3 separate regions of the Homo sapiens genome follow, and regions 2 and 3 are each linked to region 1. Evidence: fine-mapped expression QTL. A gene starts in region 1. Each other region holds a variant in brackets. All regions are shown on one strand. Distances are between the middles of the regions. Region 1 holds the start of CEP164 (centrosomal protein 164). Region 2 overlaps CEP164 (centrosomal protein 164). Region 3 has its middle 92 kb from the start of CEP164.

What was found. PIP is the estimated chance that this variant, and not a neighbour inherited with it, causes the effect.
Region 2: its variant is the best candidate, but not a certain one, in a credible set for the expression of CEP164 in whole blood (TOPMed, PIP 0.52).
Region 3: its variant is the best candidate, but not a certain one, in a credible set for the expression of CEP164 in whole blood (TOPMed, PIP 0.57).

The regions. Positions count from the first base shown.
Region 1 is chr11:117,323,596-117,332,108 of GRCh38, forward strand. It overlaps CEP164 (centrosomal protein 164), which reads left to right and starts at 4,259. Exons shown (of 33, transcript NM_014956.5): 1 at 4,259-4,309. RefSeq lists a silencer at 4,327-4,576.
Region 2 is chr11:117,389,419-117,395,281 of GRCh38, forward strand. CEP164 (centrosomal protein 164) reads left to right here. Exons shown (of 33, transcript NM_014956.5): 16 at 1,359-1,490; 17 at 1,581-1,797; 18 at 2,808-2,885; 19 at 3,078-3,209; 20 at 3,586-3,708; 21 at 4,932-5,075; 22 at 5,502-5,585; 23 at 5,705-5,773. Among named protein-coding and RNA genes, the nearest start is that of CEP164, 64 kb to the left of the region's middle. The variant T/G (reference allele first, on the strand shown) is at 3,482.
Region 3 is chr11:117,415,229-117,423,741 of GRCh38, forward strand. No RefSeq gene overlaps it. Among named protein-coding and RNA genes, the nearest start is that of CEP164, 92 kb to the left of the region's middle. RefSeq lists an enhancer at 5,033-5,533. The variant T/C (reference allele first, on the strand shown) is at 4,007.

The sequences.
Region 1 (8,513 bases):
CTTTGGATATATACTGAGTAGTGGGATTGCTGGATTGTGTGGTAGTTCTATTTTTAATTTTTTGAGGAACCACCATACAGTTTCCATGGTGATTGTACTAATTTACAGTCCCACCAACATTTTAAGTATTCCCTCTTCTCCATATCCTCACCAGCTTTTGTTTTCCTTTGTCTGTTTTATTGTAGCCATTTTAACTGGAATAAGGTGGTATCTCATTGTGGTTTTGGTTTGCATTTCCCTCATGGTTAGTAACGTTGAACATTTTTTCACGTACCTGTTGGCCATTTGTATATCTTCTTTTGAGAAATGTCTTTTAAGGCAGTTTGCCCATTTTAAAAATCCGGTTATTTGGTTTTTTTTCTCTTGTTTTGGCTGTTGAGTTGTAAGAAAAAGTTCTAATAGTGGTTTCTGACCTAGGAGTAGGGAAAAAATTTGTCATCAATTCTTTCCCATCTTTGAAATATGACCCCTAAATGTTCATCCTTACTGTAGAAGACAACCTATGAGTGAAGTCCTCTCTCTCTTCTTCACTCATTGGGTATATTACTGGTATATCATTTAGTGTGTCAGGATGGGCACAGTGGCTCATGCTTGTAATCCCAGCATTTTGGGAGGCCAAGGCAGGCAGATCACCTGAGGTCAGGAGTTCAAGACCAGCCTGGCCAACATGATGAAAGCCCATTTCTACTAAAACTACAAAACATAGCCCGGTGTGGTGGCACATGCTTGTAGTCCCAGCTACTTGGGAGGCTGGGGCAGGAGAATCGCTTGAACCCAGGAGGCAGAGATTGCAGTGAGCTGAGATTGCACCACTGCACTCCAGCCTGGGCAACAAACTCCCTCTCAAAAAAAAAAAAAAAAATTTGTGTGTCATTTTTGTTATTTTCCCCCCAAAGTCTTACTTTTTAAATTATGTTTGCCTTGGGGGCATTTTATAAATTGGCTTGCATTTCTGAGTACAAACCTATGGGGAAACCTGATAAAATGCAAATTGTTGATTTGTGTGAAGGTAATCCTGTTAATCCCACAGTATCTCTTATTTTATTAGCTCTTCCCATGAGAGAGCAAGGAACCCATGCTAAGGCACAAGAGTTAAGCATTTGGATGGCAATTAAAATCAACAGGGCTGGGCGTGGTGGCTCATGCCTGTAATCCCAGCACTTTGGAAGGCCGAGGTGGGTGGATCACCTGAGGTCAGGATTTCAAGACCAGCCTGGCCAACATGGTGAAACCCTGTCTCTACTAAAAATACAAAAATTAGCCTGGCATGGTGGTGACAGAGTAAGACTGTATCTCAAAAAGCAAACAAACAAACAAACAAAAAACCAGATTGATTGCAAAGATTGCAAATTCTTAGATATAGGGACCAAGTCTACAAATGGTTTTTTGAATCCCTGTTTTGTGCAGGTTTGTGGTAGATGAGCTGGTGAGCCCAGAATTCCTTCCCAGTCTGGTCCCTTTGGCCCCTCAGTGAGACCTTTATTTATTTATTTATTTATTTATTTTTGAGACAGAGTCTCACTTTGTCACCCAGGCTGGAGTGCGGTGGCGTGATCTTGGCTCACTGCAACCCCTGCCTCTCGGGTTCAAGCGATTCTCCTGCCTCAGCCTCCCAAGTAGCTGGGACTACAGGTGTGTGCCACCACGCCCAGTGAATTTTTGTGTTTGTAGTAGAGACAGGGTTTTGCCATGTTGGCCAGGCTGGTCTTGAGCTCCTCATCTCAGGTGATCCACCTGCCTCACCCTCCCGAAGTGCTGGGATTACAGGTGTGAGCCACCACAGCCTGGCCTACTTTTTTCTTTTTTTGAGACAGAGCTTCGCTCTTGTCAAACAGGGTGGAGTGCAATGGCGAGATCTCGGCTCACTGCAACCTCCACCTCCTGGGTTCAAGCGATTCTCCTGCCTCGGCCTCCCGAGTAGCTGGGATTACAGGTGCCTGCCACCACAACCAGCTAACTTTTGTATTTTTAGTGGAGATGGGGTTTCACCATGTTAGCCAGGCTGGTCTCAAACTCCTGACCTCAGGCGATCTGCCTGCCTCGGCCTCCCAAAATGCTGGGATTACAGGTGTGAGCCACTGTGACCGGCCAAGACTTTTAAAGAAGATGGAGAGGAAAGGGGACGATGATTTGTCATTTACAGTAAGAATAAAGGAAGTATAGGCATAACTGCTGCAGAAGGATTTAAATTTAAACATGATGACGTCAATCTAAATAACAGAGAGGGAAACTCCAAAAGAAAATGATATTTATTTAGAAGTAGCATTGCAATAGGTATACACATGCCATAGAGGCTGGGCAAGTAGGACCTTTTTTTTTTTTTTTTTTTTTTGAGACGGAGTGTCGCTCTTGTTGCCCAGGCTGGAGTGCAATGTCGAGACCTTGGCTTACCACAGACTCCGCCTCCTGGGTTCAAGCGATTCTCCTCTCTCAGCCTCCCGAGTAGCTGGGATTACAGGCATGCACCACCATGCCTGGCTAATTTTGTATTTTTTAGTAGAGATGGGGTTTCTCCATGTTGATCAGGTTGGTCTTTAACTCCTGACCTCAGGTGATCCACCTGCCTTGGCCTCCCAAAGTTCTGGGATTCCAGGCATGAGCCACTGTGCCTGGCTCAAGTAGGAATTTTTATTTTATTTATTTTTTTAGACGGAGTCTTGCTCTGTCACCCAGGCTGGACTGGAGTGCAGTGGCTTGATCTGGGCTCATTGCAACCTCCACCTCCCGGGTTTAAGTGCCTCAGCCTCCTGCCTCAGCCTCCTGAGCAGCTGGGACTACAGGCGTGTGCCACCATGCCCAGCTAATTTTTGTATTTTTAGTAGAGACGGGGTTTCATCATATTGGCCAGGCTGGTCTCGAACTCCTGACCTTAGGTGATCCACCCGCCTTGGCCTCCCAAAGTGCTGGGATTACAGGTGTGAGCCACTGTGCCTGGCAAAGTGCTAGGATTACAGATATGAGCCACCAGGCCCGGTCGATAGTTTTTGTTATCAGGTATTCATGCGTGAGAACCCTCTCTTCATGGTCTTCCCTGGCTCCATTTGTCAGGGTTTTAAAACAAATGACTCTATTTTGATTTTGATAATTTTCACAAGGAATATGCTCTGTATATTCCAACAATCTGAGTTTCTCATCCTGGAATCAGCCTCTGAGTGGCACTGGGACTATCCTGAGTCAGCTACATCTCTAGAACCTATCAGGAGCGGCTCTATGAGCTTGGCCTCATCATTTTCCTCCTCAACTAGCAGCATCTGTATTTGTCTGTTTCTCAGTTTTCCTATTGATGTAATGGCCAGAACTTTCTTTGCCCCTCTTAACTTCTCTAGGAGGTTGGAGACATATGAGAGAAAGGAAGATTTGCCCTCCGTGCAAGCAAAACTAAAACTCTTCGGAATTATATTAGTAGCAACCTTTCTGCCCGACAGGGTGTGTGGAGGAGCTACACATTGTGTCACTTTTTTTCTTCTTCAATAGACTCTTTGAAATAGTTATGACAGACATTACTATCCCCATCTTGCAGACATACAAACTGAACCCTGGGCTTTGGTGAAAAGATGGATAGTAGAAAATAGGTTTAACTCCTGGTCAGGTGCTCACTGGTTTAATAGGAGCACAGGAGAGCCAGTTTTTTTGCGGGGAGAGATGGGGAGTGGACGCGTCTCCATTACCTTACATTCACATTTGTTTTGTTGATTAAAGTAACAATGGGTTGATTATTGATGACCACTGTATTATTCACCTGATGTTAATCATACTCCTAACAAATGATCAATTAGATAATTAGATAATTCACATTAGTATAAATACTCTAAATAGTCCTTCTCTGTCCTGGCAGAAATCCTCACGTCTAAACTCGGGGTCCTCTTTTTTTTTTTTTTTTTTTTTTAGTAGAGAAGGGGTTTCACCATGTTGGTCAGGCTGGTCTCGAACTCCTGACCTCAGGTGACCCACCCGCCTCGGCCTCCCAAATTGCTGGAATTACAGGCGTGAGCCACCGCGCCCAGCCGATGAGGTTCTCTTTCAACCTCTTGCGGATTCCCATTATCTATCTTAAACTACACTCTTTCAACCTCTTGCGGATTCCCATTATCTATCTTAAACTACACTCCCATCGTGCAACGGAAAACGGACAGAGCTCCTGCGTGCACCGAAGGGACTTCGAGCCAATCCATTGTCACAGCTCTCAGCCGGCGACCTATTGGCTCCTGCTGGAGGCGGGACTCCCGGTTGCTAGGCGGTACCTTTTCCGGAAGTGTTTGTTGCGCGCTGCAGGGCAACACCCCGGCGTCCCTGGAAGCTGGGGGAGCGGGTGGGTGTTGGGTGGCGTTGGGGGAGCTGCGCCTCGCCCAGAGCCTCGCCCGGAGCCTCGCCCGGAGCCTTCCGGGGTGGGGGATAGTTGAGGACCTCATCGAGGGAGGGGTTGGGCGGCGGGGAAGGGAGCGAGCGTGGCGGGGGACCCGAGGCACGCTCTCGAGCCAACGAGCGTGATGCGCTCGAGTGTGGGCGGGGACTGAGGGAAGAAGTGAAAATCGGACTGCCAGGCGACAGTTCCTCCGTTTGAAATCTCGCCGGCTCCTGAGCGGGCCACCGGGCCCGGGCTGGGGGTCTGGCGGGTGAGTGAGCAGCGGGTCGGGACGCGGGAGAGGGGCACTGGGCACGGGGCCCTGGTTTGCTTGCTCTGTTCATCGTTGGCGAGTGAGGCCAGGCCTTCCGAAGCTTGCTGGGATACTTCTGTGGCAGGCTTCCCCCCGGGTCCAAATCCGGGGCTAGCCCAATCTTATGCCATCTTTGGCCAGCTGGGAAAGTTGGAAAGCTTTTTTGTTTTTTCCTTTTCTTGCATTGGATTTAAAAATGTCCCTCTACCTCTGGCACCGCTCTCCTCACTTGGCTTCAGCGACTCCCTGTCCGTTCTCCTAACTCAGTCCTTGGCAGTAGAAAGCTCCCTTCTACTCGGCGCACTCCATCTCTTGCGTTATCAGCTTTTCAGCGTTGACTCGCCAAACTACTCCAGCCAGACCTCTTTCCTGAGCTCAGACCTGCTTACTGTCATCGTCAGCCTTCCCCGGTCCCTCCGATCTGTTTCTCCTCTTGTATTTTTTTATCTCAATGAAGGGCTTCACCATTCACTCAGCCAAGTCTGTCCCTTTAATTTATTCATCTAATAAATACAGCAAACATTTGTCGGACATGCCCTGTCTTCTAGGCAGTGTAGTAGGTGGGGCTGCCTATTGGACGAGGCATAGAAATGAACACATCTAGAAATGATAGTCACAGTGTTCTGGCTTTAGTGCTCTGATTTCCCTCCTCTCTCCCGAAGTTCAAGTCCTGTATTCTGCCTCTTAATTCCCCTAGAATCTGGCGCTTCCTTTCCATCCTCACAGACACTGACTTAGTTCATAATTTCTTGCTTGTGCTTTCAGGATAACTTCCTAAGTGGTCTCTCTGCCTCAGTTCTTGTCCTCCTGTAATTAGTTCTTATGCAGCTGTCAGAATCATTTATTTATTTTAGAGACAGGGTCTTGGTATGTTGCCCAGGCTGGAGTGCAGTTGGTATTCACCGGTGTGACCCTAGTACACTGCAGCCTCGAACTCTTGCCCTCAAGCCATCCTCCCACCTCAGTCTCCTTAGTAGACGGGACTACAGGCATGCACCACTATTCTTGGCTAGAATCGTCTATCTGACCTACAGATCTGGTCATGCCAGTCTCCTTTGTGAAATCCTGTGATGGCCCCTCATCATTTACAGGATAGAGCCTCTGTTCTTCCAGGCCCTTTATAATATGCTCTTGCCTTTCATTCTAGAGCTCTGTCTTGCCACTCCTCCCACTGTCCCTTGCACTCTGGTCATGTCAGAATGGTTAAGAGTTTGGGCTTTGGAGTCAGACATGGATACTTACATATTCTGCTCTACCGTTTATTAGCTGTGACACCTTGGGCAAGTTTGTTTGTTTGTTTGTTTGTTTTGAAATAGAGTCTTGCTCTGTCGCCCAGGCTGGAGTGCAGTGGTGCGATCTTGGCTCACTGCAGTCTCAGTCTCCTGGGTTCAAGCGATTCTCCTGCCTCAGCTTCCCGAGTAGCTGGGACTACAGGTGGGCACCACAACTCCTGGCTAATTTTTTGTATTTTGGTAGAGACGGGGTTTCACCATGTTGGCCAGGCTGGTCAGGATCTCCTGACCTCATTATCCGCCCACCTCCGCCTCCCAAAGTGCTGGGATTACAGGCGTGAGCCACTGCGCCTGGCCTTTTTTTTTTTTTTTTTTTTTTTAACTTTGCTAAGCCTCAGTTTCCTTATTTGAAAAGTGAAGATAATTCTATTTTGCTGAGTGGATGAAGTGAGATGATGTATATAGAGCACTCAGTACAGTTCCTGTAACATAGGAAGTGTTCAGTGGCTATAAGCTTTTGTTGTCATAATTAATTCTTTGCACCCACCTTATGATTTTCTTCTTTTTTGCCTTTGTGCATGTTGTTCCTCTGCCGTGAATTCCCTTACTCCGCTTATCCTGGGGATCACCTGCTTATCCTTCAAGAACTATCTCAATTGTCCTCTGTGAGGCTTTCCCTGATCTTCCTAAGATTATTTGCCCTTACCTTTGTGTTCTGTTATATATTATGTTACTTCCTTTAATTCATGTAACACATTTTGTAGTCATGTGTTTACGTGTTTGGCTTTCCAGGTAGGCTGAGCTCAAGTTCAGGGCCATGTGTAATCAGGTTTGTAGCCCTAACACGTCGCACAATGTCTGGCCCATGGTGGGTGTTCAGTAAGTGATTACTTGGCGCGGTGACTCACGCCTGTAATCTCAGCACTTTGGGAGGCCAAGGCGGGCGGATCACCTGAGGTCAGGAGTTCGAGACTTGGCCAACATGGTGAAACCCCATCTCTACTAAAAATACAAAAATTAGCCGGGCGTGGTGGCAGGCGCCTGTAATCCTAGCTACTCGTGAGGCTGAGGCAGGAGCATCATTTGAACCTGGGAGGCAGAGGCTGCAGTGAGCAGAGATCGTGCCATTGCACCCCAGCCTGGGTGACAAGAATGATACTCTGTCTCAAAAAAAAAGCAAAGAAAAAGTGATTACTTAATGTCTGAATGGCCTTAACTTATATTGCCTGGTGCTGGATATGTCCTTTGGAGCAAGGTAGAATAAACCCTTTTAAATAGGTGAATAGCAGTCATAATAATGTAATGTCTAACATTTATTGAGACCTTAGTATATTTTAAGCACTTTACATGTATTGAATCATATAAGCCTCACAACACATTGTGATGGATATTGTTAGTACTCTCATTTTATAGATGAGAAAACTGAGGCTGTCCAGCTAGTAAGAGGCAGAGCTGGGATTGAAAGCCAAGAATGTTCCAAAGCTTTTGCTCATTACCACTGCGTAATCAACTCTGACATCTTCCACCTTCTCCCCTTTACCTTCTCCAGTCAATCTTTTCTGTGGTCAACCTTCTTTGTAATTGTTGGAGCAGGGTGGAAGAAATAAATATACAGAGAACCCTCATTATGTCTGTGAGTGTATATTCTCTGTTAGTGTGCAGATGTGCAAAACTCTAGCTATGCTGACAAAGTACAGGGCAAGGTAGCCACAATATTGAAGGACTGGGAAACGATATGTACTGAATGGAAGAGAACTGGGAATACTTAGCCTACCTTAGCTAGAGAATCCTAGGGTGTCCCCAGATGAGCAGAAGGCAGACTTGAGATACCAGGGAACATTTTTTTAGAACCTGATTATTGGCTTACTATTAGACCTTCTAATAGTTAAGAATTATCTAACTATGGAATTGAAAATAGAATCTGTAATACTAGCTAAATTTGTGTAACTTTTCTGTATACAGGGACTGTGCTAGGCACTTTATAAGTGTTGTTTCATTTTACTTTCAGGCTTTTTGATTTTTGTTAAGATTGTTTTAATTATACACATGCAGTTATTGAGGCTGAGAGAGGTGAAGCACCTTGCCTAAGGTCATACAGCTGCTAAGTGAGAGAGCTGGGATTTGAATCCAGGTCTTCTGTCTCCAAAGCTGGTACTTTGACCACTATGCCGCCTGTCACTGGAAGCACAGAGAGGAAAATTTTGGCATGGGAAGGAAGGTGGACCAAAACTACTGCGGGTCTTCCTAGCTTCTGAGATTGCTGGTGTATTTTTTTTTTTTTTCAGATAGGGTCTCACTCTGTTGCCCAGGCTGGAGTATGGTGGTACAATCATAGCTCACTGCAGCCTCGAACTCCTGGTCTCAAGTGATCCTCCCACCTCTGCCTCCCCACTTTACACTCTTTATGTAACTCTGTCTTCCTTTCCATCTGATCACATAGCTCCTGCCTCAGCCTTCCGAGTAGCTGGGACCACAGGTGCACGCCACCATGCCTGGCTAATATATATATATATATATATATTTGTGGAGACAGGGTCTTACTATATTGCTCAGGCTGGTCTTGAGCTTCTAGGCTCAAGTGATCCTAGGCCTTGGTCCCCCATAGTATTGGGATTACCGGTGTGAG
Region 2 (5,863 bases), 64 kb after region 1:
TTATTAAGCACCTACTTTATGTCAGCTACTATGTGTGGTACCTGGGATATAACAGATTTTAAGACAAGATTCTTTCTCTTGAGAAGCTCCCAGACTTGCAAGGAAAACAGAGATACAGAAGATGAATTATGATGCCATGTGACGCATGGTGCAGAGTAGCATGGGATAAGAAAGGTCCACATGTAAAGTGATGGGAACAGAAAGATGAATTGATGAGCTTGTAGGGAGTTGGAAAGACTTCCCAGAGAGGGAGCTGAGTGTTGAGGAATGAATATGGGTTTGCCAGATAGAAAAGGGAATTCTTGGCAGAGAACCTAGGAAGGAAGAGTGTGGTAGAATGGAGGGATGGTGACTCAGCTGATGTGGCTAGAACAGAGTCTGTCGGAGTGAAAGAATGTGGAATCTGGTTGGGTGGCTATAGCTATCCTTGAGTGAGTGCCATGCTGAGGTGAAGCTGTTGACAGAGGGGAGCCTTTGGAAGAAGTGCTGTACTACCAAAACCCAGAAGCCAGTAGTTTGCTTTTTTTTTTTTTTTTTTTTTGGAGATAGAGTCTTGCTCTGTTGCCCAGGTTGGAGTGCTGTGGTGTGATCTCAGCTCACTGCAACCTCTGCCTCCCAGGTTCCAGCAATTCTCCTGTCTCAGCCTCCCAAGTAGCTGGGATTACAGGTGTGCGCCACCATGCCCGGCTAATTTTTGTATTTTTAGTAGAGACGGGGTTTCGCCATTATGGCCAGGCTGGTCTCGAACTCCTGACCTCAAGTGATCCACCTACCTCGGCCTCCCAAAGTGCTGGGATTACGGGTGTGAGCCACCACGCCCGGCCATTAGTTTGCTTCTTGAAGCAAAGGGGAGTTCATGGTCCCTTCGTAATCCTGGGAGGTATTAGGGAGGCAGCAGTGGACCTAGAGGCTAAGGTTAGACTCATCTTTAAGATTTAGGAAGCTTTGACTGGGCGCAGTGGCTCACACCTGTAATCTCAGTGCTTTGGGAGGCTGAGGCTGAAGGATCACTTGAGCCTAGGAGTTCAAGACCAGCCTGGGCAACATAGCGAGACTCCATCTCAACAATTAGCTGGGTTTGATGGTGCATGCCTGTGGTCCCAACTACATGGGATGCTGAGGCGAGAGGATTGCTTAAGCCCAGGAGTTTAAGGCTGCAGTAAGCCATGATCACACCACTGCATTCCAGCCTGGACAACAGAGCAAGAACCTGTCTCCAAAAAGAAAAAAAAAAAAAAAGATTTAGGAAGTTTCTTAGGCAGGCAACAGGGCTATTGGAGGCTGAGAGCCATAGCTTATGAATAGAAGAAAGACCTTTGTGGTTTCTCTGACAACCTAGCCTTTCCTTTCCATCTCAGTTCCTTGAGGGAGCGGCTGCAGAAAGCCATTGAGGAGGAGGAGGCCCGGATGAGAGAGGAGGAAAGCCAGAGGCTATCCTGGCTCCGAGCTCAGGTCCAGTCCAGCACACAAGCAGATGAGGACCAAATCAGGTAAGTGTGTGCTTACCTGTGAGCTGCCCAGCCCTGCGGAGGCGACCCCAGGGTGCACAGGCCCGTTACCATTCCACTGTGTCCACCCAGGGCTGAGCAAGAGGCTTCCCTGCAGAAACTGAGAGAAGAGTTGGAGTCTCAACAGAAGGCTGAGAGGGCCAGCTTGGAACAGAAAAATAGGCAAATGCTGGAGCAGCTCAAGGAAGAGATAGAGGCTTCGGAGAAGAGCGAGCAGGCTGCCCTGAATGCTGCAAAGGAGAAGGCTCTGCAGCAGCTGAGGGAGCAGCTGGAAGGGGAGAGGAAAGAAGTGAGCTAGTCAAGTGGGGACCTCACCCTCTGACCTGTGTCTGGGCTGCCTGGGGAGGGACTGAGTGCACAAGGAGAAGAAGGGCAAGTCTCGGGTGGGCGTGCAGGCTGGGGAGCCAGGTGGAGAGTAGGTCTCACACACACAGGCATGGGAGACAGCGAGATGACCACCTGGGCCCATTACTCCATATGGACCGAATCGGCTCATGACAGGGCAGAGGATGCAGCAGGCATCACAAGGCTCCTCCAGGGTCAGGCTGGATGGCAGTGGCGGCTGGAGGTTGTCAAGCAGAGAACCCTCAGAGGCTTGAGGGAGAGCGTCCTGTGGATTTGAGAAAGTTCGTGACTGAAAGAGATTTAGCCAGACCAGAGGTTTTGAGACAAAGGCGCTCTGTCCCTCACTGTCTCTGAGGGACAGCTGCAAGGGCCTCACTCCCCACTTTTCTCTCCTTTCTTAGGATGAGAGGCTAGCAATATAGCAAGGATTTTCTCTTTGTCCATACTCCCTCTTCTACTCCAGTCAGATGGTGGGCTTCTGAAGGTTTTAGCACAGTCTCTCTGAGCACTTGTAGTACAGTGCACTTCCCTACTCCTGCTGTAGTGTTTTCCTTGTCTAATAGCTGCAGCTTTGCACCTCACCAAAATAAAAAGAAAATTCTACATGGCCCGACTTAATGACAGCATCCAACCTGGCCCCCCTGGCTTGGATCTTATTTACCAGCATGAGCACCATCTGTGGATCTGTGGCCTAGTCTAAAGGCAGGGGGTGGGAGCAGAGAGCCGAAACTTACTGAAATGCCCCTCTCCTCTGACCTTCATGTTCCTGTTCATTTGCCAGTTGTAGACTTCAGGGGCTGAGTTATTTCAGAGGAACAAAGATGTGCTGTGCTTCCCCATGCTTCCCTTGACCCTGATCTCGAGGGCTTGGGGGTCGGTAGTCTTCCTGGCTCCGCCTCCCACCATGATCAGTACCTGGCCAGCTTCACTCACAGTCCCTTTGCTCCTCCCCAGGCTGTGGCAACGCTGGAGAAGGAGCACAGTGCTGAGCTGGAGCGGCTCTGCTCCTCATTGGAGGCCAAGCACCGGGAGGTAAGATGCAGCATCCTGGGCCCCCTTCATGGCTGATTAGCAGAATTCAGCCCCATCCCTGGCTACTAGGCAGCGAGCCTCTCTCTCCAGCCCTGGGGGATGGATGCCAGGTCCTCAGAACACATCCCCACACAGCAGCTGTACAGTCTGTCTGAGGGTCACACTCCCCTGTGTGTGCGGGGGCCTCCTCAGGTGGTCTCCAGCCTCCAGAAGAAGATACAGGAAGCTCAACAGAAAGAGGAGGCCCAGCTGCAGAAGTGCCTTGGGCAAGTGGAGCACAGAGTTCACCAGAAGTCTTATCACGTGGCTGGGTATGAGCACGAGGTGAGTGCTGCTCTGTCTTCCACAGTCGTGTGCGCCTGTTGTGGACTCTCTTACAGTCAGCTGAGCCGGCCTAGCCTCAGCGGCCTCCAGTTTGCTTTGGATGGCTCAGCTGGGGTTAGCATTTCTAGTTCCCTTTTTATGCCTTAGTTCCCTTGAAGCCAGGTACTCCTCCAATCTGATGCCCCTGTATGCATGTGGGGAGGGGGTGTTGGGGTATGGCTGTGTGCTGACCATGGTGTCATGGCTGTGTGATGTGCATGTGTTGTGTGTGT[T/G]GGGGGAGATTGGGGAAATGTGTGTAAGACCTTCAGGTGCAGCAGGCCCTGAGTGCTGGTCCGCCTCGGTTCTTCATGCCACATCCCTGCCATCTCCCCTGCAGCTCAGCAGTCTCCTGCGAGAGAAGCGCCAGGAAGTGGAAGGGGAGCATGAGAGGAGGTTGGACAAGATGAAGGAGGAGCACCAGCAAGTGATGGCTAAGGCCAGAGAGCAGTATGAAGCTGAGGTAGCTCAGCCACATCCCCTGCGCGCATGCACACACATGCACACACACATGCACGCACATGCACACACACATGCACACACACATGCACGCACATGCACACACACCCCGGGGTCCTTCCCACCTGGCTGTGGGGCAGAGGAAGGGGATAAACTGTGGTCAGGGATTGTGGGAGGTTTTCCTTCCTGGTACCCTGCCACGATGATGTTTTTTGCCTTTTTTATTAAAACATGAGAAAAACCTCCACCTAATGGGGGGCAATTCCTCTTTTATCAGGCAGGCTGTACTTTCTTCTGATAGTAAAAAGAACCCCCATACATTGAGCTTGTACTGTGTGCCAAGAACTGTTCTGAGCTCTTTATCTATTTTAACTCATTTAGTCCTCACACCAGCCTTAGGAAGGATCTACTATCATTGTCTCCATTTTAAAGATGAGGGCACTGAGACTTGGAGAGTTTAAGTAGCTTCCCAAGATCACACCCAGCCAATAAGTAGAAGAGCTAGGATTCAAGCCCAGGCCATCTGACTCCAAAGCCTTCAGTTTCCTCACTGCAATGCTGTGTCACCAGGGTTCCTCAACATCTTGGGACACCAAGAAATAGACTGGCAAGAGCCAAGTAATACTGATATTCTCCCCATTTTAAGCCTTTGGTCTTAAGGTAGGAAAGTTCAGCGACTTGAGTTTACCCAAGCTGGCCTGCCTTGCTCACATTGAGGGTGAACAATGGGTGGGTAGAGGGTGGCTGACTATAGCCCACAGCTGGGACCCTGCAGGGTGTTAAGACTACTGCTCCAGTAACTGGAACCAGTATCCCAGACTCTTTCTAGGATCTTTCCCAGGGCAGAAATAGCAGTCCCATGATGAAATTTGCCATATCCCTTCCCCCAACCAATTATGACCTTGCTGAAGAATAGTGATAATTTATCAGTGACCTCTCATTCCTTACAGAGGAAAAGTTGTATATGGTGGAGCCATAGGGAGAGCCAGAAAGGGAATCTGTCGTGGTGTCTGACCAGCCTCTGCTTCAGCTCTAGAGGGCTGCAGGCTTGCTGGGGCCAGGGCCGGTGCTGTGCTTGTAACCCTCCTCTTCTCCAAGAGCTGGCTTTAGGGAGCCGATGGTGTCCCTGATCTTACTGATGCAAGGCTGCAGGGCTAGGGGAGCTGTGATTTTTGTGGTAGAAGGGGCTGCCGCAGCTTCCCACCGGTGGGCCCACCCTCCTTGCAGGAGAGGAAGCAGCGGGCTGAGCTTCTGGGGCACCTGACCGGAGAGCTGGAGCGCCTGCAGAGGGCCCATGAACGAGAACTGGAGACTGTGAGGCAGGAGCAACACAAGCGTCTTGAGGACTTGCGGCGCCGGCACAGGGAGCAGGTGAGGGGCCTGGGGCAGGGTGAGCCCACTGTGACCCCTCCATGCACAGTAGGAAGGTGCTGGGAGCAGACGCATGGCCCCAGCAGGATGCAGCCTGACAGCTTCTGGAGTGAGAGTCTCTCACTGGCCATCTCCAAGCTGGGGCATCCTTGTTACTTTGTTTTCTGGGCCAGGGAACACACTCAGGATTAGAACTAGAGGTCAGCCCCTGTAAGGCATTGGGGTTGGCACCTTTGCGTCTCCTTGCCCCAGCAGGAAGTAAACAAGGTGTGGAGCCTTCCTGGGAGGCTGCAGGGGCACACAGCGAGGAAGCCTGAGCCCAGAGTGGAGGTTGTGGTGTGGCATGGTGGGTTCTGGAACCCCCTCCTGCCCCTCAGCTAATGCCTTACACTCTTTCTATGCTTATGTGTTTCCCTTTCTGGGCAGGAAAGGAAGCTCCAGGATTTAGAGTTGGACCTTGAAACCAGAGCTAAAGATGTCAAGGCCAGATTGGCTCTGCTGGAGGTCCAGGTGAGGGATCTGCAGGAGTCCTTGACCTCAGAGTCATAGCTTCTCTAGCAGAGGGCAGGCTCTGCCCCTCAGACCTGGGGTCTGCAGTCAGCCAGAAAATCCTGTCTCTTCCCTGCAAGGAGGAGACCGCCCGGAGGGAGAAGCAGCAGCTGCTTGATGTGCAGAGGCAGGTTGCTCTGAAGAGTGAGGTTTGTCTCCCTGTTTTGTCCTCCCTCCTGTTCTTCCTCCATTTCCTGTCTTTCTTCTCCCTGTTCCCCACATTTTGTTCATCTGATCTG
Region 3 (8,513 bases), 92 kb after region 1:
GAAGGTAAAAAATACTACCAGTTCTTTCTGGAGATTTTATGCAAATAAAAAGAAGGGACACTTATGATTCTCTTCCCTATTACTGGTGGAGTATGGGTCACTCCTAATGTAGGATGGGACGATTGCCCCAAGCTCTGTCGTGAGTGGTTGATTGACGGTTTTCTTAAGGGAACAATGCTGGGAAAGATGATAGGCGCCCGCCACTGACCCCTCCCGCCTCCCTGCCCCTCCAGTAAACTCCCACACAAAATAGCAGTATGAGGTGTAGGGAAATAATCTTGGCCTCCGTCCTGGGTTTACTTTTGACTCTGCCACCTACAAGCTGTCACCTGAACAAGTCCTTTCCGTTCCTGTGTCTTCCCTGGTCACAAGCTCTAAGCCTGAACCCACACTCTGGGAATGAAGCAGGGTAGCGGCCTCTGCTTCAGCAACTCTGAGGGGTCTACCTTGGGTGGGGAGTTGGCCTCATCCAGAGGGCTGCTGGAGGGCCAAGACAAGGCTCTGGTGGGGAGGTGTGCTGAGAGGGGATTGCTTATCCCACCACCAGCTTTTCTGGGGGAGGTGGGGAAGTGATGGTTAAAAAATGGAGTTCCTGCTATCAGCCATGTCCTGATGAATTGGAAAGTCCCCTTCTTTCTCCTTTCCTCTTGCATCTCCTGCCTGCTTCCCCTGCCTGCCCTCCTGTGACATGTGCCCTCTCCAGCAGGTATGTCACACAGCACCCCAAGGGAAGGGCAGTGTAACGCTCTTTTCCATGATGGACTACCACAGCCAGAGGAAGACAGGCCTTCCCTTCTTTTCTAGTTCTTTTTGGTTTGAAAACAAGGCACTCTTATTTTCCCCTTCCAAGAAGCTGGTGGTTCACACGGGCCAGCACACACATTATCAAAGACCTAGTTTGTTTCTAGTAAATGAGTCCATTGAAGTGGGAGCCTTGGCCGGGCAAGGTGGCTCACACCTGTAATCCCAGCACTTTGGGAGGCCGAGATGGGTGGATTGAGATCGAGACCATCCTGGTCAACATGGTGAAACCCTGTCTCTACTAAAAATACAAAAATTAGCTGGGCGTGGTGACACACACCTGTAGTCCCAGCTACTCAGGAGGCTGAGGCAGGAGAATCGCTTGAACCTGGGAGGCGGAGGTAACAGTGAGCCGAGATTGCGCCACTGCACTCCAGCCTGGGCGACAGAGTGAGACTGTCTCTCCAAAAAAGAAAAGAAAAGAAAGAAAATAAATGAAATGGGAGGCTTAATTTATTTGAGACATATCACAGCTACCCTGAAAGAAGGAGAGAGGTGCTGGTGCCCTGCAGTGATAAGCACTCCTCACATCACAGTAGGGTTGAGGAGACGGCAGACGTTTGTAAATATGAGTCTTTGTAATTTAGAATCTGCCAACATTTTTTATCAGGTGGGAGGAGAGGAAATGGCCACAGGCGAACACACACGCACACACCCCATAGCACGCTTAGCTCCATTGTGGGTTAGAAAGTCCATGTCTTACATTGAGTAGAACCCCAGCTCTTGGTTTTGGGGTCATATTACACTGTCCCCATCAAACTTATCACCCTGATTGTTGTCAGTGCTTTTAGAAGATGTAGTAGCATTTCTTCTAGAGAGGGTGTAGGAGTCTCCTTGCCCAGCAGCCCTCAAAGTCCTGATCCCCCTTCCCTATGGGGCCCTATGAAGGCACACTCCCTGGAGAGTTCAATAGTTTCTTCTCTCCCTTTCCAGGGTCTCTGAGGCTAGTGTGACTGTTGAGAGGCTCCCAGCCATGCTCTCTGTGACCCTCAGGCTTGGGTTGGGATCCCAGCGCTCCTTGAAATAGAGCAAAAGGTGATGGGTTGCATAGTGTCTGTGGAGGTGCTGGTGCCTGAGAGCATAACAATAGAACAGGCTCCTGCACATAACCTTTGGGATGGACCCATGACCCCAGTTTGGAGGCGAGGGTTAGGACAAGATGGCCCTGAAGGAAGGATTGCCTCCCATCTTCCTTGGTTGGGTCAAATCAGCTGGTTAATGTCCTCTCCCTTTTGTTTTTTCTTGAAAGACCCATATCACTTTCATCCAAATCCATATGTCAGTTGTTTCCCCCTGGCCCTGACCTCTGATCAGATAGGGGGACTGGATCTGGATCATTGGGATGATTGATCTGGAGGTGAGAGACAGCTGCTGTTTCATTAAGTCAGCTCAGCCATAGCCCCCACCCTGGAAACCTTACTCTCTCTCCAGCAGCCTTCTAACTCTACAGGGAGGGCCCTTTGGTCTGTGATGAAATGGTTTGTGGGTGGGCAGCACGCCTGGGAGGGGCTGCCTCCATCTCCAGGAAGCACAGTTCCTCTCCCGGCTCGGGCAGGATGGGGTGCAGGTAGTGCTCTCCTAGTTTTAAAAATTCTAGGATAGGAGACGTCAGTCTGCCTCATGGCTTTTGCTCTGTGGGGTAGAGCAGAGGGCATTGGAGACATTTCCGATTGCCCCTGCTGAAGAGAAGGATACCCGTTCTTGGGAGGTAAGAAGCAGAGGGACAGTTGGGTGAGTCTCACTCTCAGGGTTAAAAGCAGGGAGGCTATGAATCGAACAAGGATTTCCACATTATCCTTTATAAAGAGGTTGTGAGGATGCAAGAAGTCCTTAGAACAGTGTTCGGCACATAGTAAGGCCTCAATAAATGTGAGCTGTTGGTATTGCCGTTGCCCTGGCCAGGGAAGTCGGGAACCATGACGGAGACTGCAACCTGTGTGACTTCCCATGAGTAACCGCAAAAGTCTTGGACACAGAGGACAAGACAGGTGGCAAAGAAAACGCTTGCTGGGGGATTGTGTTCCTCTTCATGGCCAGTTGTATGTGAGAGGGAGAGAGAGAGGGAAGTGGAAAGTTTAGGACCTGGGGCCAGCAGGCAGGAGGCAGAACAGAGCCTGTCAGGCTTGAGACGGTGCCCTAGGTTGGAGTACAGGACGGTCTCCTGGGGTTCCCCACGAGGAGCCGACGCCTACCCGCTGCATGGACCTTGGAGACTGAGAAAATAGGCTCCACCGCTCTCCTAGTGACCCGTCCCCCTGTAGGGCCACTGCTGGGGCAGCTTAGGCACTAGGCCTGGAAAGGGGCAAAGGTAGGGAATGGAGCTGGGACTCTCTTGGATTACCTATTATGTTAGGCTGGCTTCAAGGCTCTATCTCATGCCTCCAAAAGACCTGGGCTCAAATTCTGACGCCCAGGCACTAGTGGAGTATCTTTGGGAAATGATCCTCTGCCTAAGCCTCAGTTTCCTTATTTGTATAATGGAGCAGAAGATACCACACACACACAGGGTGAATGAAATAACCTAGGACAAGTACTTTGGGTGAAGCACCTTGTAAACTACAGAGTGTTGTGGAAATGCAAGTGTTTGTTGAACCTCTGCTTGAATGCCTCCAAGGACAAGGTGCTCATCACCCCTGAGGTAGCCAGTCCTGCTGTTGAGCAGTTCTGAACTGGCTGAGGGGGAGTCTTCTCTTACAGTTCTGCTGTGGACTCACACAGAAAAAAATGTCCCTTTACTTCTTCCACATGATAGAATGAAATAGGGTCACAGAACCCTCTCCCGTCCGCTGCTTGTCCCCCTTATGAACATACATGAGTGTATGCACATGCAGGGGTTAAAGTGTAGTGCATGCACATTTGGATTCTCACAGGGCCTCTTACTAATAAAGTAGCCTCTGTTTGCTTACTACCAGCCAGTGCAAAGGCCTTTACCTATCTACAGCTCTCAAAGATCCTCATAGCAATCTTATGAGGTAGACAATGATCTCCATTTTACAAGATGAAAAAAGAAAGCGAGAGAGCCTTGGAAGGTTAAGCTATTAGGTTGCAGAATGAGAGTGCAAACCAATGGCCTGTAGTGCAGTTGTTCACGTAGGCACTTGTGTGGACACTGCACACCCTCATGAGTATGCGCCCTCCCTCCCGGCACAGGGATTGGAGGGCGAGGTTGGGGGCTGAGAAGGAGGTCCGGGGCAGCCTCTTTCTT[T/C]GTGTGAAGAGGGAAGGTCTCCCCAGGGAAGGCCTTCTGCTCTACCTACCCTTTCTCCTCCTCCTACGTGCTCTCTTCGGCTTCAGAGGCCGGCAGAGTCTGACTAAAGGCAAGACAGCGGTGGTGCCTTCAAATAAATAGCTGTTGTCTCATCCTCAGCCCCATTTCCTCTTGGAGAAAGTTGGCAGGCCCTGGGGCCACAACAGCATCCACTCTGTTGTAGCTACAAAGAGAAGATGGTAAGGGTAGTGCCCGGGTGCTCCCCTCCTCAGAAACCTCCTCCTGGGAGCAGTCAGACAGATCTGTGGCTCTGCCATTGACCACCTCTGTGCTCTGGACAAGTGACTGTCCAGCGACTCAGCGTCGGTGTCTTCATCTGAGAATGAGCTCATTCCATGCACCCTGGAACATCTGCTGGGCTGCCTGTTCTCCTCACCCCATGCCCCCAGCGCCTGGGAAGTGCCAAGCACACAGGAGACCTCCCTAAGCAGTAGGTATTCCTGCACCCAAGGCCCGTGATGAATTCCCTCCCACTCCCTGGCATTGCAGACCCTACCCTTTTCTTAAGCTCTGCCCAGGGACACCCTGAAGCCCTACAACGGCCCTAACTCCTAAAAGGAATCCCTGCTTGGCTCAAGGGCGATCTGACCCAGGCGGTTCCTTGGAGTCTGGGCTGGGCTGCGGTGACACCCCTGGTGCCCCAAAATCCACCGTGCACTCCTCTAGTCTCTGAATCCCCATGGAGGGGTGTCAGAGCCTGGCAGGCGTGGGACCTGTGCCTCCTGGGGAAGGAGGCTGAGGTGGGCAGGACCCAGGGTGTCAGGCAGAGTCAGACACTGTAGAAATGCCTGGGGGAGGGTGGGGATGGGAGACTTGTAGTCTAAGCTTGCAGGACCTGCCAAGTCCCCTCTCCCTTGGTGTTGCCGACAGAGCCCCATGGTGGCTGGAGGCCTGGCTTTCGTGCGGGGCATTGGTCTGAGGCGGCTGGCCGCAGTGGTGGCTGGTGGTGGCTGCCCGGGTGCTGAGCCCGGATGTGTCCAGTCAGCGCGTACTGGAGATGCCACTTGTCACAAAGGCCCTGGCGGGGCTCAGCTGGGGACACGCAGGGCCATGCCTGGAATGGTGCCATCCACCTCCACTGGGCCCAGGAAGGGTGGAGCTCAAGAGAGAAAGAATGGCACCCACAGAGGCAGGACGTCTTAGGGCAGAGCTCACCATCTGGGTGATGCCTCCTGGGGGAGGTGAGGCATTGGCCCAGCATGGATGGGGTGGCATTTTACTGCGCCGTCCACCCTTTCTGGTGACTCCCAGGAGTTGGGGGCCCAGTGCTAGCTCCTGGTTGGGACTGATGACAGTGAATTTGAGGACATCAGAGGCCTTCAGAGCTTCCCTTTCTGCACAGGCTGTGAATCCTCTTGGTGAGCTTCAGTAGGTTCTCTAGGGCAGCAAGGGACCTTCATATCCCACCTGCTTCCCTGGACACAAATCTGGGCAGGAAAACAAACAAACAAACAAAAGCTGGGCATGGTGTTCCTCGCCTGTAGTCCCAGCAACTCGGGAGGCTGAGGTGGGAGGATCGCTTGAGGCCGGGAATTCCAGGTTGAGCGCACCATGATTGCGCCACTGTACTCCAGCCTGGGCAACAGCAAAACCCTGACCAAAAAAAAAAAAAAAAAGAAAGAAAGAAAAGAAGAAACAACAACAGCAACAACAAAACCTGGGCAGATGAGGCAAATCCTGGCTTCTCTGGAATCTGACCCTCTGGTCTGCTGGTTTGTATCTTGTCTAATCCCCATTTCATAGTTAAAAGCTTTTTAACCTCATTATTTCCTTTCAGTCTTATCAACCTGGCAGCATGGGAGTTATTCTCGCATTTCATAGAAGCGGAAATTGAGGCCCATGAGGGCGAAGGTGCTTTCCCGAGGTCACAGAGCTGGCAAGGGAGCAGCAGGATTGACTCCGCAGCCCCTGCGTTTCCATCGCAGTGCCCGCCACATAGTAGGAACTCTACACATGGCGCCTTCTGGGGGCCGCCTGGCTTTCTGGAAAGGATCCGAAGTGGTTTGGTGAGCACCGGCTTTGGAATTCAAACCCTGGCTGATGCCTCTTGCCGGCTGAGTGGCCTTGTACAAGTCACCTGACCTCTTTGACTTCTTTCTTAGCCAATAAAATGGAGATCACACATCTTCAGGGCAGAAATTACAAACACATTAATTTCCCATCCATAGATCCTTCCCACGAATCACCAAAGAGGAGGCCTGCCTTGCCTGCGGTTTCTCCCACCTCCTCTGCCTCCCCTATGCCCAACTGTTGCTGTTTCCTAATGGAAAATGGGGGGAAATGAATGTGAGAGAACATTCCCCAGAGGAGAGGAGGGCGGAGCTGAGCAGGGCTGGAGAAGAGCAGGCAGTGTGTGGGGGGATGTGGGAGGCACAGGCTCCGTAGGGTGTCAGCGGGTGTCACTTACATCTGCTCTTCGGACCCCTTCAGGATCACAAAAACAAAAGCAGATAACTTGAGTTATTTAAAACTTTCGTTTTGGTGGCTGAGTGGATTGAGGTTCTTTGACTGGCACTACGGCCCTGAGACACCACCACTTGGGTTTTGTGCTTATAGGAGTTACTCTTTTTTACAGGGTAGTGGTAAAACTAGGAGAGTATCCGTGCTAAGTGGTTATCAGGGTGCTTGACTCAAGTAGACTCTCAGCAAACGGCAGCAGGCATGATGGTATTCTGTTGTGTTGTTTTCTTGTAACTTGGGGACACTATGCGGAGAGAACCAATGTTTCAGGAGATCTCGGCCTTCACTGGTCTACTCCTTGCCCGTTTCTCCCACTGTTTACCCTTTGTTCATCTATGTCTAACATATGTTGTGCTCCTATTAAGTCAGGCACTGTCCCTTCTCTGGAAGAGACAGTGGAACCCTTCTCTGCCCTTGGGGAGCCTGTCTGCTGAGGACGATGTTCAAATACCATCTGTGGAGGGCTTCTGAGTTGGGAAGGGATGAGACTTGTTTTGTGGTGCCCCCCAGGAGTGGCAGTACCGAGCCTTGTGAGTAGAAGTTGGAGGGGCCACCCAAGCTTAGTGTGAGGGAGGTTTTGCTGTTAGAGCTGTCACAGGTGAGATGTGCTGGCTGGGGAAGTGATGAGTTCTCCATCAGGAGGTGTGCACGGGAAGGCCAGACCACTCTTGCTGATTGCAGATGGAATTCCCAATTTGGGTGGAAGCGTGGACCAGGTGGCGTTGAAGGTCTCTTTGAGTCCTGAGATTGTGCGATTCTTAGAGACACTAAAACCAAGTATGGATCACCTCCAGGGTAATCCAGCTGGCATCTATTCCTCCTTCGGCCTAGAGTATTGTTGTCATTGCCCAGAAGAGGACATGGATTCTGGGAGGAAGGACAGAGCCCTGACTCAGGGTTCATGCTCAGCCTGGTTCTCCCACCCTTCTCCTACAGACACACAGATGCCCTCCTCCTCTCTAAGCTCACCAGCGTCTCCCTTTGCCTTTCCCACCCTTTACCTGTATAGGAATCCAATATGTAGGGTAAGAGGAGGTGACATGGTATGGTGGGTGACATGGTATGGCAGGCGGTGCGGGGGAGGATGCCCTGGGCCTGATCTATCAAGGGAGAATTTCTATGGGGAGCCAAGTTCCCCTTCATCTCCTGCATAAATTAAGATGATGCTAATTGTTGTAAAATAAACTCCAAAGTATCGGTGCTTACTGCAAGTTTATTTCTTGCTCACATAAAGTCCAGCTGGCATTGAAGGGGATAGAGGGGCCTCTGCGCTACATCGATGTATAAGCCAGGGTGATAGAGGATCTGCCATCTTCAATAAGTGGCTTCCAAGTTCACCTTGGGCATTGACTTACAGTTGGAGAGAGCAGAGGGTGGCCAGGGAAGTTTTTATGAGCTGGACCTGAAAGTAGCGTGTATCACTTATGCCACATTCCGCTGGTCAAAGCTCAGTCTCATCGCCTTCTCTGAGAATCGGGGGCCTGGAACTGTAGTCACGGGATGCGTAGCGACTTCCCCGCAACAACTGTGCACTGTGGAGGATCATGAGGCTTTGGCAGACAGCAAACCCTCCCTGCTGTTCCCTGACCCAGGCTTCCCTCCTTCCGCCTCCGCCAGTTTGCGCACACTCCGGGGAGTGAGCCTTTGAGCGCAGGAAGAGACCCACAGGGCCTTTGCATCTCCAGTGCCCAGCTCAGTGCCAGATCATTGGAAGTGCTTCTGGGTATTTGGTGAATGAACAAATACTTGGGTATCATTTCGCTTGTTAAAAATACAGATGCCACAAGGTCAGGAGTTCAAGATCAGCCTGGCCAACATGGTGAAACCCTGTCTCTACCAAAGATACAAAAATTAGCTGGGTGTGGTGGCGCATGCCTGTAATCCCAGCTACTCAGGAGGCTGAGGCAGGATAATTGCTTGAACCCGGGAGGTGGAGGTTGCAGTGAGCCGAGATGGTGCCACTGCACTCCAGCCTGGGCTACAGATT